Linked DNA regions of Homo sapiens: all the other regions are linked to region 1. The links come from fine-mapping of genetic effects on plasma protein levels. A gene starts in region 1. Each other region holds a variant in brackets. All regions are shown on one strand. Distances are from middle to middle.

Region 1 (2,749 bases):
TCAGCACGTTGCTTTCATGGAAGGCTTCCAAGGGAGCCAACTGAATGGGAAGGACCTGGACAGGCAATGTTGCTTAAGCCGACCCAGCATCCCTACAGCATCACCAGGCTGAGGAGGTGGAATCTCTGAGGGGCAAGATATGCAAGATATCTTTGTGTCTGAGGGCGAAGCCTCCAAGGGAGTAGGTTTGATGAAGTTTGGGTTGGGTCTCAATCCAGCTCTGCCATAACCTAGTTGGGAAAGCTTGGGCCAAGTTACTTCATCTCCCTGAGCCTCAGTTTTCTCATTAGTCAAAGGGAGCTCTACTTACTTCGCAGGGTTTCTGTGAAGGTTACACAAGAGTTATAAAGCATCTAGTCCAGGGTCTGGCACCCTGCATGGGTCCAGTAAGTGATCTTGTATTTCATTCCTCCCTTTCAATCTCCCGTGTCAGGATATCTGTCGTTTCTCCCCTCTGGGCCTGTTTCTCTGGGTCGTTGGTGCCAGAGCTGCCTTGGGAGCTGACTTGGCAACCCCACGCTCAGAGCACAGCCTTCCTCAGCTGCACACGGTGGGAGGCGCCTGGGCAAGATTTGGGAGCTCGCCAATGCAGACAGGTATTTCCAGTCCTGCTAGAGAAGCAATGGGTGGAGGTAGAAATGGGGATGGGGGAGGAGATCGGATGAGCCCGGGACCTGGGTGGATCCCCTGGGAGGAGGGCGGGGAGTCATGCTCCCCGCCTGGTTCTCCTACCCCCAGGCTCAGATTTCAACCCTCGCTGCCGCCTCTGTGGCGCGCCCGTTCGGGGAGCGGAGAGGGTCGCCCGTAGGTTCCGAAAGAAGGACGGCGTACCAGTAGCCTGGCAAGGGGCCAGCTCCCGCAGCCCTGGAGCGCGAGCCGGACCCTGCTGCCCCTCTTGCTGGCGGCGGGAAGCGGCCCACCGGCCTTTCCACGCTTGGCTGTGCAGAGGTCCACGAGGGGGCGACCTGAGCCCACGTGCAGCCGAGCTCTTCCCTCCTGAAACTACAACTCCCAGGCCGCTCAGGGGTCCCGCCCGCCTCGCCGTGCCTCTGGCGGCTCCAATTGGCCGCCGCGGGAGGGGGATTGGCGGTCTCCAGGGCGACGGGAGGCGCTCGGGGCATCCGAGGCGGGGAGGCGGGTCCGCCCCCTATTGTGTAGCGGCGAGAGTGGAGCCGAGCGGTGCGGAGCAGGTGAGGGAGGGGGCGTACTGGAGGTATAGAAGTGGTGGTGCTGGTAGTGCGGAGTTATGGGGGACAGGAGAAAGCGGGGAGTTCTAGAGAGAAGTGGAATTCGTTGCAGGAGTAGAACTAGGGGAGTTCTGGGGAGTGAAGTGGAATTCTTGGCGGGTGGGTGGGAGTTCCCGGAGAACTGCAGGAGTTCTGGAGGCAATGTGGGGGAGTTCTTGGTGGGTTCTAAGAGAAAGGAGGAGTTCCAGGGGACCAGAGAATGCGAGGGAGAAAGGAATTGTTGGGGGTGGGGTATCAGAATTGTATTGTGGGCTGATGCAGGAGAATCCCAGGGAGGGGAATTATCGGGAGGAGAGGATGGGGAGAAGTGGCTGGGGGGTGGGGAGACCAGAAGGGAGTTCTTTATAGTGCAGGAGACCTGCTGCAATTGGAGATCAGGTGCGAGAAGCTGGAATTGTGGGGGGATTGTGCGTAGTAGCGATAACTGGGAAGGGAGTAATGGGAGGACGAGGGAGTGGTGTGTGGGGAGACTAGAAGGGTGAGGAAATAGTGGAGGCCGGGGGAGTTGGAAAGATATTAAGAGACTGGGAGGAATTCTAGGGATGCCTAGTTACTCAGAGTCTCGGAAAACAACCAGGAGAGAACTAGGGGGTTCCTATATACTTGGAAAAAGGTTTTTCAGGGAAGTGTGGGAGAGCTGCCTGGAGGCAGTGGGAAACAGGGGGCTTGGTTGCTAGTGAATTGCCAGAAGTTAGACATACAGGATCATTAAGTAGAGGCAAGGATCAGACTCTGTGGAGGATGTTTTATAGTCTGTCCTGAACTTTGCGGCCAAGAGTGGGTTGGAGGACTCAGAGCAGAGTCCACTTGGCAGTGCCAGGCCCTGGCATGGACCCTCTGGCTCTCTGAGACTGCCCTAGGATCTGTGGGGCTGTCAGAAGCTCCTACCCTCCATGCCCCAGGGTTAATTTTGTACACTTCAGGGACTCACAGGCTTTTTTTTGGACCATGCCTCTGGGGTTGGGGAAGAAAGAGCTTGACAAACCCTGGCACCCCGAAGATATTGGAGGGGAGTGAGTGGGAGGGATTTGGGTGAGGTCCTTGGGTGGTGGTGCCTGGCAGGGGGAGGGCTGCTTGGCAGTATCGTGAGGAAGTGGCGCCAGCTGCCAGCCCCGGGACCTGTCCAGACCTGGAGGATGCTGCCTGGATCCCCCATACTGGCAGGTGGGGGAGGCAGCTCCTCCTCTCCCAAGTGCCTGACTCACTCACTGCCAAAGCAGTGTAGGGAGACTGAATGGAGAAAGGCCTCGGGTCCTCAGCTTCCAGAGTTTTTCATAGAGGCTGGGGAAATGGGACAAGGGATTGTATCGGGGTGTCCTGGGGACCACTTTCTGAGGCTTAAGCGCCCTGGATTTGCCCTTGACTGGCTCTCTGCCCCTGAGCAGATATCCTCAGGGCCCTTATTTGTCACAGAGGGGTGAAGGCGACAGCACTGGTTCCATCTTGCTGCTATACCTTGTGAGCATCAAGAGTAAGGAAAGAAGCGAGAGCAGCCTAGGCCA
Region 2 (2,749 bases), 20 kb after region 1:
GCCTCTCTCTCTCTCTCTCTCTCTCTCTCTCTCTCTGTGTGTGTGTGTGTGTGTGTGAAGTTTTTTACAGGTGAATAAACAAAGTTTGAAAGATGTTTCTGTGTGTTATCTGTCTTTGAGAGAGTGCCAGGAAAATCCCTGGACCCTTAAAGAAGAGGAGAATCTTCTTGAATAAATGGAGGTGCATTCAGCATTCATTCAAGAACATTTATTGAGTGCTTACGGAGGCCAGCTACTAAAGGCCAGCCACTGAAGTAGATACTGAGAAAATACAAAGCTCTGGAAGCACGCCTTTGCCCTTGAGGAGTTCTTTCTAGTCAGTGAGGCGGACAAAGAAATAGTTACCGTATGATAAGTTCCGTGATAAAGCTATGTGTTGGTTATTGTAGCACAAAGGAAGATGTTGCATTCAAGGCCACCTTTAGTGAACGCTAATATCGTGTGCTGGGACAAATGCCACATATTGGGGGGGAGTCCTCAGGACCCTCACAGATAGATGGTGGTAATAATAGTATTCACTATGTGCCAGGCACTGCTCTAAGCCCTATAGGTGGACTGTTTAGTTCTCTACAATTCTATGAATTAGGTAGTACTATTAGCTCTGTTCTATAGACCAGGGAACTCAAGCA[T/C]AGAATGCACAACAGTCACACAGCAGGTAAAGGGTAGAGCAGGTGGGGAGCCAGTCAAGGAAGGGAAACTGTCCTAGGCAGAGGAATAGCCTTTGTAAAGGCACAGAAGAGTGAGAATGCTTGACAATCAGTGGGACTGGAATATAGGGCTGTGTAGGACTCGGGGAGGGAACAGAGAATAATAGAAAGGTTGGACAGGACTGGATATTGACATCCTGGAATCTCAGGTTCAAGGGAGGACTCTATCATGTGTGCAGAACTCCACCCCGGGGGACTCTATTCAACTGAAGCCTGAAAGGATGGGGGGCTCTTTCTCCACCCCTGAACTGTGCTGTCCTCCACCCTCAGAGACAAAAGAACCCCAGCCAGCCTCCTCGCGCTGAGGTCTCCCCCTCTGATCCCTCCAGGATTTAGGAAGAGATACCAGGTCATAGAAAAGGAGATGAAAGGCAGGGAGAAGACAGGTCTGAGCCCTGGGTCCCAACACCGAAAACACCCCTAGGGCCCTGGGCAGAGTGACCTCACTGTTAGTCCCTGCCCAGGCTTGAAGTAAGAGGTGAGCAAGATCACGTGGGGGTGCTGTCCCGGCCTGCAAGTCCCAGTCCTGTCACACACTAGTCAGTTGGGGTCGGGGGAAGGCCTTCCTGTGCCTCCTTTTACCTTGCCAGCCTCTAAACTAGGAGGCTTCTTCCTACATAAACACGCCCACAGTGTTTAGCTAACTTTCTAGGCAGAAAGTTTCCTACTGGGGCACAAGTCTACGGGCTCTCGGTGGAGGCTGAGGTACTCACGGGTGGAGACCACTGCAGCCGCCTTTGTAGATTCAGACTCCCCGAACCTTTAACCCTTGCTCTGGTCTACTGTCCCTCTGTCTCAAGCAGTCCTCCCTCCTTCTGCGCTGCGGCGCCTTTAAACCTTCTTGGCCCTTGCCCCGCCCCGGGTCCGCCCCGTCTGAGGCGGGACCCTCCTGAAAATCCCCGGCTGGGCAGGGCGCACCACTTGCAGCTGCAGCCCTTGCCTTGAGTCAGTGCGCCGCTCTCCAGCCCGCTTGAACGGTGAGCAGGTCGGGGGTACGGGGGTCGGGGACATGTGCGTGCTGTGTAGAAAGCAAGAAGCCAGCGCTTTGAACTTGCTCCAGCGAGCTCGGGGATCAAGGGCTGGTACCAGGCAAGGGTCCGGTGACTACTTTACCCCGCCCCGTGCTGTCAGGTCCTGTCCCCAAGCCCTGACCCGACATTGTTGGACGATGAGGTCAGGCGAGGTTAGCCCATGCATAGACAGGGCGTCCGTCTGGAGCAGGGACTCAGGGACTGAGCCCCACCCGCGGGCTCCATCGCTGAGTCCTCACTGGGGCGAGGGGAAAAAAGGGCGTCGGACTTTAGCTGGCTGGCCCCGAGTGACCCCGGGTCGTGGCGCCGGCCCTGGGCCAGCTCGTGCTCCTGGGCTTTCCCGCGCGACCCTTCACTTCCTGGTTCCAGGAGCACGTGTGAGCACTGCGTGCCCTCTGAGTCCCCGAGGCCGCCCTTTTCATTCCTGTTCCTGCTAGCTTGCTATTCTGGGGACTTGAGGTCACGGGCTGGGGCTAGGGGGCTCTGCATGGGTCGCACGGTGACCTTCTGTGAAGCTCCAGTCATCTCTATGACGGTCCCCTGACCTCGGGGGTCTGGGTGCTGCAGCCCTGACTGCGCCCCGGGGTGCCCTGTGTGAGGTTGTGGGGGTGGTGGTGGCTGCTTTTACCCTGCCCGAGCGCCGCTGCCCCCACCGGGTGCCCCCTGCTGCTGGGAAAGCCGGTGGTGGCCGCGGGCGGACGGGCGGGCTGCCCAGACCACTGCGTCACCCCAGCGGCGGGAGGGCGGTGGGTGACTCATCTGTTGTAACGGCCCAGGGTGTGGTCGTGGGGGTGGGGGGCGGCGGCTGGGAGGCCGGACCTGCAGGACCGGAGGTGGACTGCCGCCTCCCCCCGCGCCCTGTGCCTCCTGGGGCTACCTGAAGCCGGTGTCCTGGGAGATCTGTGAGCAGTTGGTATCTGTGGGGCAGAGAGAAACGGGGTGAGAGTGGGGATGGAGTGTGGGATTCGATGTAGAAGACCTGCGGCTGGGACGGGGCTCCCCCAGTGTTCT
Region 3 (2,749 bases), 13 kb after region 1:
AAGGAGAACTGAAGTTTCTTTCGTGTGATGACTGGGAAATTGTGTGTCCCGGGGGAACACACACTTCTTACCAGGTGCTGTGTGGGGTAGTGGGTTGAGGGCAGGGGCAAGGAGGCATCCATCCTTAAAGTGGGCACCATCTGGGCAGAGGACAGCAACACTGTCTGGAAGGCCAGGGATGGAGCTCGTGCCTTCCTCTTAGGGTGGTTGAGGATAGACCAGCAACAGATTCTGGGACTTTGGTGATGGGCCTCAAAGAGGACACAGTCATTCCCTTGCAGAAACCAGGGTCAAGAGGCAGGAAGTAGTATAGTACGTTTATGGAATCATGGATCGTCCAATTGGGTGGGAGCCGGAGTGCCTGCAGGGACATGAATGGTGCAGAGAAAGCTGGAAAGACAGGTTAGCATCAAAAGGAAGAACTGGATGCCAAGTTACTATTGCCTCATTCCAAGGCAATTGGGATCTTTTGTCTGCAGAGACTATAAATTTTTGAGGCCTAGTATTGCATCTTTTCATCATAGTGTACCTGGGGCTTCTACAACAATAGTACTCAGTATATCTTTGTTGAATATTTAAGAAAAAAGTCTACAGGCAGTTGGAGCCACTGGAATTTGTTGAGCATTGGTGTGATAGGATCAGAGCTGTGATCAGGGGTTGAGCTTGCCCAGTGGAATGTAGCGGGAGATACTGGACATAGGAAGAGGGGTTCTGAAGCTGCTGAAATGGCCCAGGTGAGAGTTATGGAGTCTGATTTACAGAGGACATGAAGATGAATGGGCTCATGCTCTGACAAAAGGGACTTCCCAGGATGACTGGCTTAGTGAGTATTTCACCAGGGGGAGTGAGGGAACGTGAGGAGGCAGACTTCAGCAAGAAGGATGGCGGGCCCTTTAATAGAGAAATAGGAGCTGGTTTTGGGTGGAAGACTCTGAACTTAGTTGTGGAGTGCTGGGAAGAGAGCCAGGTGAAGTCCCAGCAGGCAGGAAGCCCCACGCGGCCCAACTACAGGGGTGGCCATTCACAGTGTATTTTCTGTGAGTGGCACCCCCTGGAGTTGTGCAGTCACAGCCTCACACTATTGGGAGGGGTCCCTCTGCAGGAAGGAAAGGAAGCACTGGAAATCAGAGAGGGGTCAGGCCTAGACATGGAGCTGCTGGAGTCTTCTGCACAGCTGTGGGTTTCTCATCCTGCCCCCTCTCTTGTACTGCCATCCCGGGCTTGTCTCTGCTGAGCTCCTCTCTCTAGCTGTCATCTTCTCTTCCTTCCAGTTCC[C/T]TGGCTGGTCCCAGGGCACAGAAGGCTCACTGATCATCGCCCTGGGGAACGAGGATGCCCTGGGAGAATACTCCTGCACCCCCTACAACAGTCTTGGTACCGCCGGGCCCTCTCCTGTGACCCGCGTGCTGCTCAAGGTTAGGCCGGGGGTGGGCGGGGGCCTGTGGTGACAGTGGGTCAGATGGCTGGAGATGGTGCTAAGGCCAGGCTGATGGGGGTGGGGTGGGGCAGACACATGGGGAGGGGTTTCCAAGTTTGTTTCCCATGGTGGCCACGGCAGCAGCTGCCTGATGCCATCCCAGAGGTTTCTGCAGAGGTGGTGCTCGGGAGGTGGGACATCAGTCACACACATCCAGAAGTAAGATATCCTGTTTGCCCCAACTCTCACTAACCTTGACCGTGCTGCCTCCCTCTCTGGGGCTCTGGGAGGAAGAATGTTCTGCAGAGGTTTGTACATCTCTGAGAGTCCTGCCTAAGCCTGCCAGCCCTTACTACACCACCATTTTCCTCCAGCCCCTACCCACTGGGGAACAGAAACAGAGCCAGAGAGGAATTGAGAGATGGAGAGAGAATGAGGTAGAGACAGGCTTGGTGAGTGTTTAGCTAGGGGGAGTGAGGGAGAGTGAGGTGAGACATGGCATGACAGGGAGCACAGAGAGAGGGAGTAGCCAGCCTTAGATGTAAGAGAGGGCCCCTCCCAATGCCAGATCTGGCTTGCAGGCTCCCCCAGCTTTTATAGAGCGGCCCAAGGAAGAATATTTCCAAGAAGTAGGGCGGGAGCTGCTCATCCCCTGCTCCGCCCAAGGGGACCCTCCTCCTGTTGTCTCTTGGACCAAGGTAAGGCTCCTGAGCCCGCTCTGCCTGTACCCACGCCCACTACACCCCTGCCTCTCGTGCCCCAGCCATTTTGTGGGAGGGAGGGTGTGGGAAGGAGAAGGCTGTCAGAGGCAGGGTGGGGAGGAACTGGAGCTGCCTGGAGAGATGAGGGGCGCCTTTGGTGAGGGGTGGCTGCGTGTGTCCTCAGGGCTCACCAGTGGTTCTGTAGGTGGGCCGGGGGCTGCAAGGCCAGGCCCAGGTGGACAGCAACAGCAGCCTCATCCTGCGACCATTGACCAAGGAGGCCCACGGGCACTGGGAATGCAGTGCCAGCAATGCTGTGGCCCGAGTGGCCACCTCCACGAACGTCTACGTGCTGGGTTAGTGGCTGGAGAGAGGGCCAGGGGCTGGGAGAAACTACTTGGGAATCGTTTTTGGAGGCCCAGAAAGAGGATCATGGGTGTGGGACCCCTGGGATGATGATGGGTGAAGGTCAGTGGCCCTGGGGCCCCTGCTACTCTGTACACTCCCTCAGGCCCTGACCACCATCCCTCCATTCCCCCCTGCCTAGGCACTAGCCCTCATGTTGTCACCAATGTGTCCGTGGTGGCTTTGCCCAAGGGTGCCAATGTCTCCTGGGAGCCTGGCTTTGATGGTG

Direction of the effects. Positions count from the first base shown, and alleles are read on the strand shown. Strength reflects both the effect of a copy and how common the allele is.
For the plasma level of the protein whose gene starts at base 1,150 in region 1, T is the low allele of the variant in region 2 and C is the other (moderate association).
In carriers of allele T in region 3, the plasma level of the protein whose gene starts at base 1,150 in region 1 tends to be lower than with C alone (weak association).

The links. PIP is the posterior inclusion probability: the model's chance that the variant is causal. The UK Biobank Pharma Proteomics Project read protein levels with antibody pairs (Olink). The fine-mapping took linkage between variants from a reference panel, not from the people measured, so its PIPs are less certain.
Region 2: its variant is fine-mapped to the plasma level of the IGSF9 protein (UK Biobank, PIP above 0.99).
Region 3: its variant is fine-mapped to the plasma level of the IGSF9 protein (UK Biobank, PIP above 0.99). The variant lies in the coding sequence of IGSF9. If it changes the protein, the assay may bind it differently, which can mimic a change of level.

Annotation. Positions count from the first base shown.
Region 1 is chr1:159,944,014-159,946,762 of GRCh38, reverse strand. It overlaps IGSF9 (immunoglobulin superfamily member 9), which reads left to right and starts at 1,150. Exons shown (of 21, transcript NM_001135050.2): 1 at 1,150-1,190. It overlaps LOC124904438 (a long non-coding RNA gene), which reads right to left. Exons shown (of 3, transcript XR_007066684.1): 2 at 311-611. RefSeq lists an enhancer at 527-1,027 and a silencer at 870-1,164.
Region 2 is chr1:159,924,385-159,927,133 of GRCh38, reverse strand. TAGLN2 (transgelin 2) reads left to right here and starts at 1,627. Exons shown (of 5, transcript NM_003564.3): 1 at 1,627-1,684. It overlaps IGSF9 (immunoglobulin superfamily member 9), which reads left to right. Exons shown (of 21, transcript NM_001135050.2): 21 at 1-93. LOC124904437 (a long non-coding RNA gene) reads right to left here. Exons shown (of 2, transcript XR_007066683.1): 2 at 194-2,655. RefSeq lists enhancers at 1,949-2,525, 1,998-2,749 and a silencer at 2,257-2,666. The variant T/C (reference allele first, on the strand shown) is at 630.
Region 3 is chr1:159,931,175-159,933,923 of GRCh38, reverse strand. It overlaps IGSF9 (immunoglobulin superfamily member 9), which reads left to right. Exons shown (of 21, transcript NM_001135050.2): 10 at 1,272-1,412; 11 at 1,996-2,112; 12 at 2,321-2,471; 13 at 2,663-2,749. Among named protein-coding and RNA genes, the nearest start is that of TAGLN2, 7.0 kb to the right of the region's middle. The variant C/T (reference allele first, on the strand shown) is at 1,276.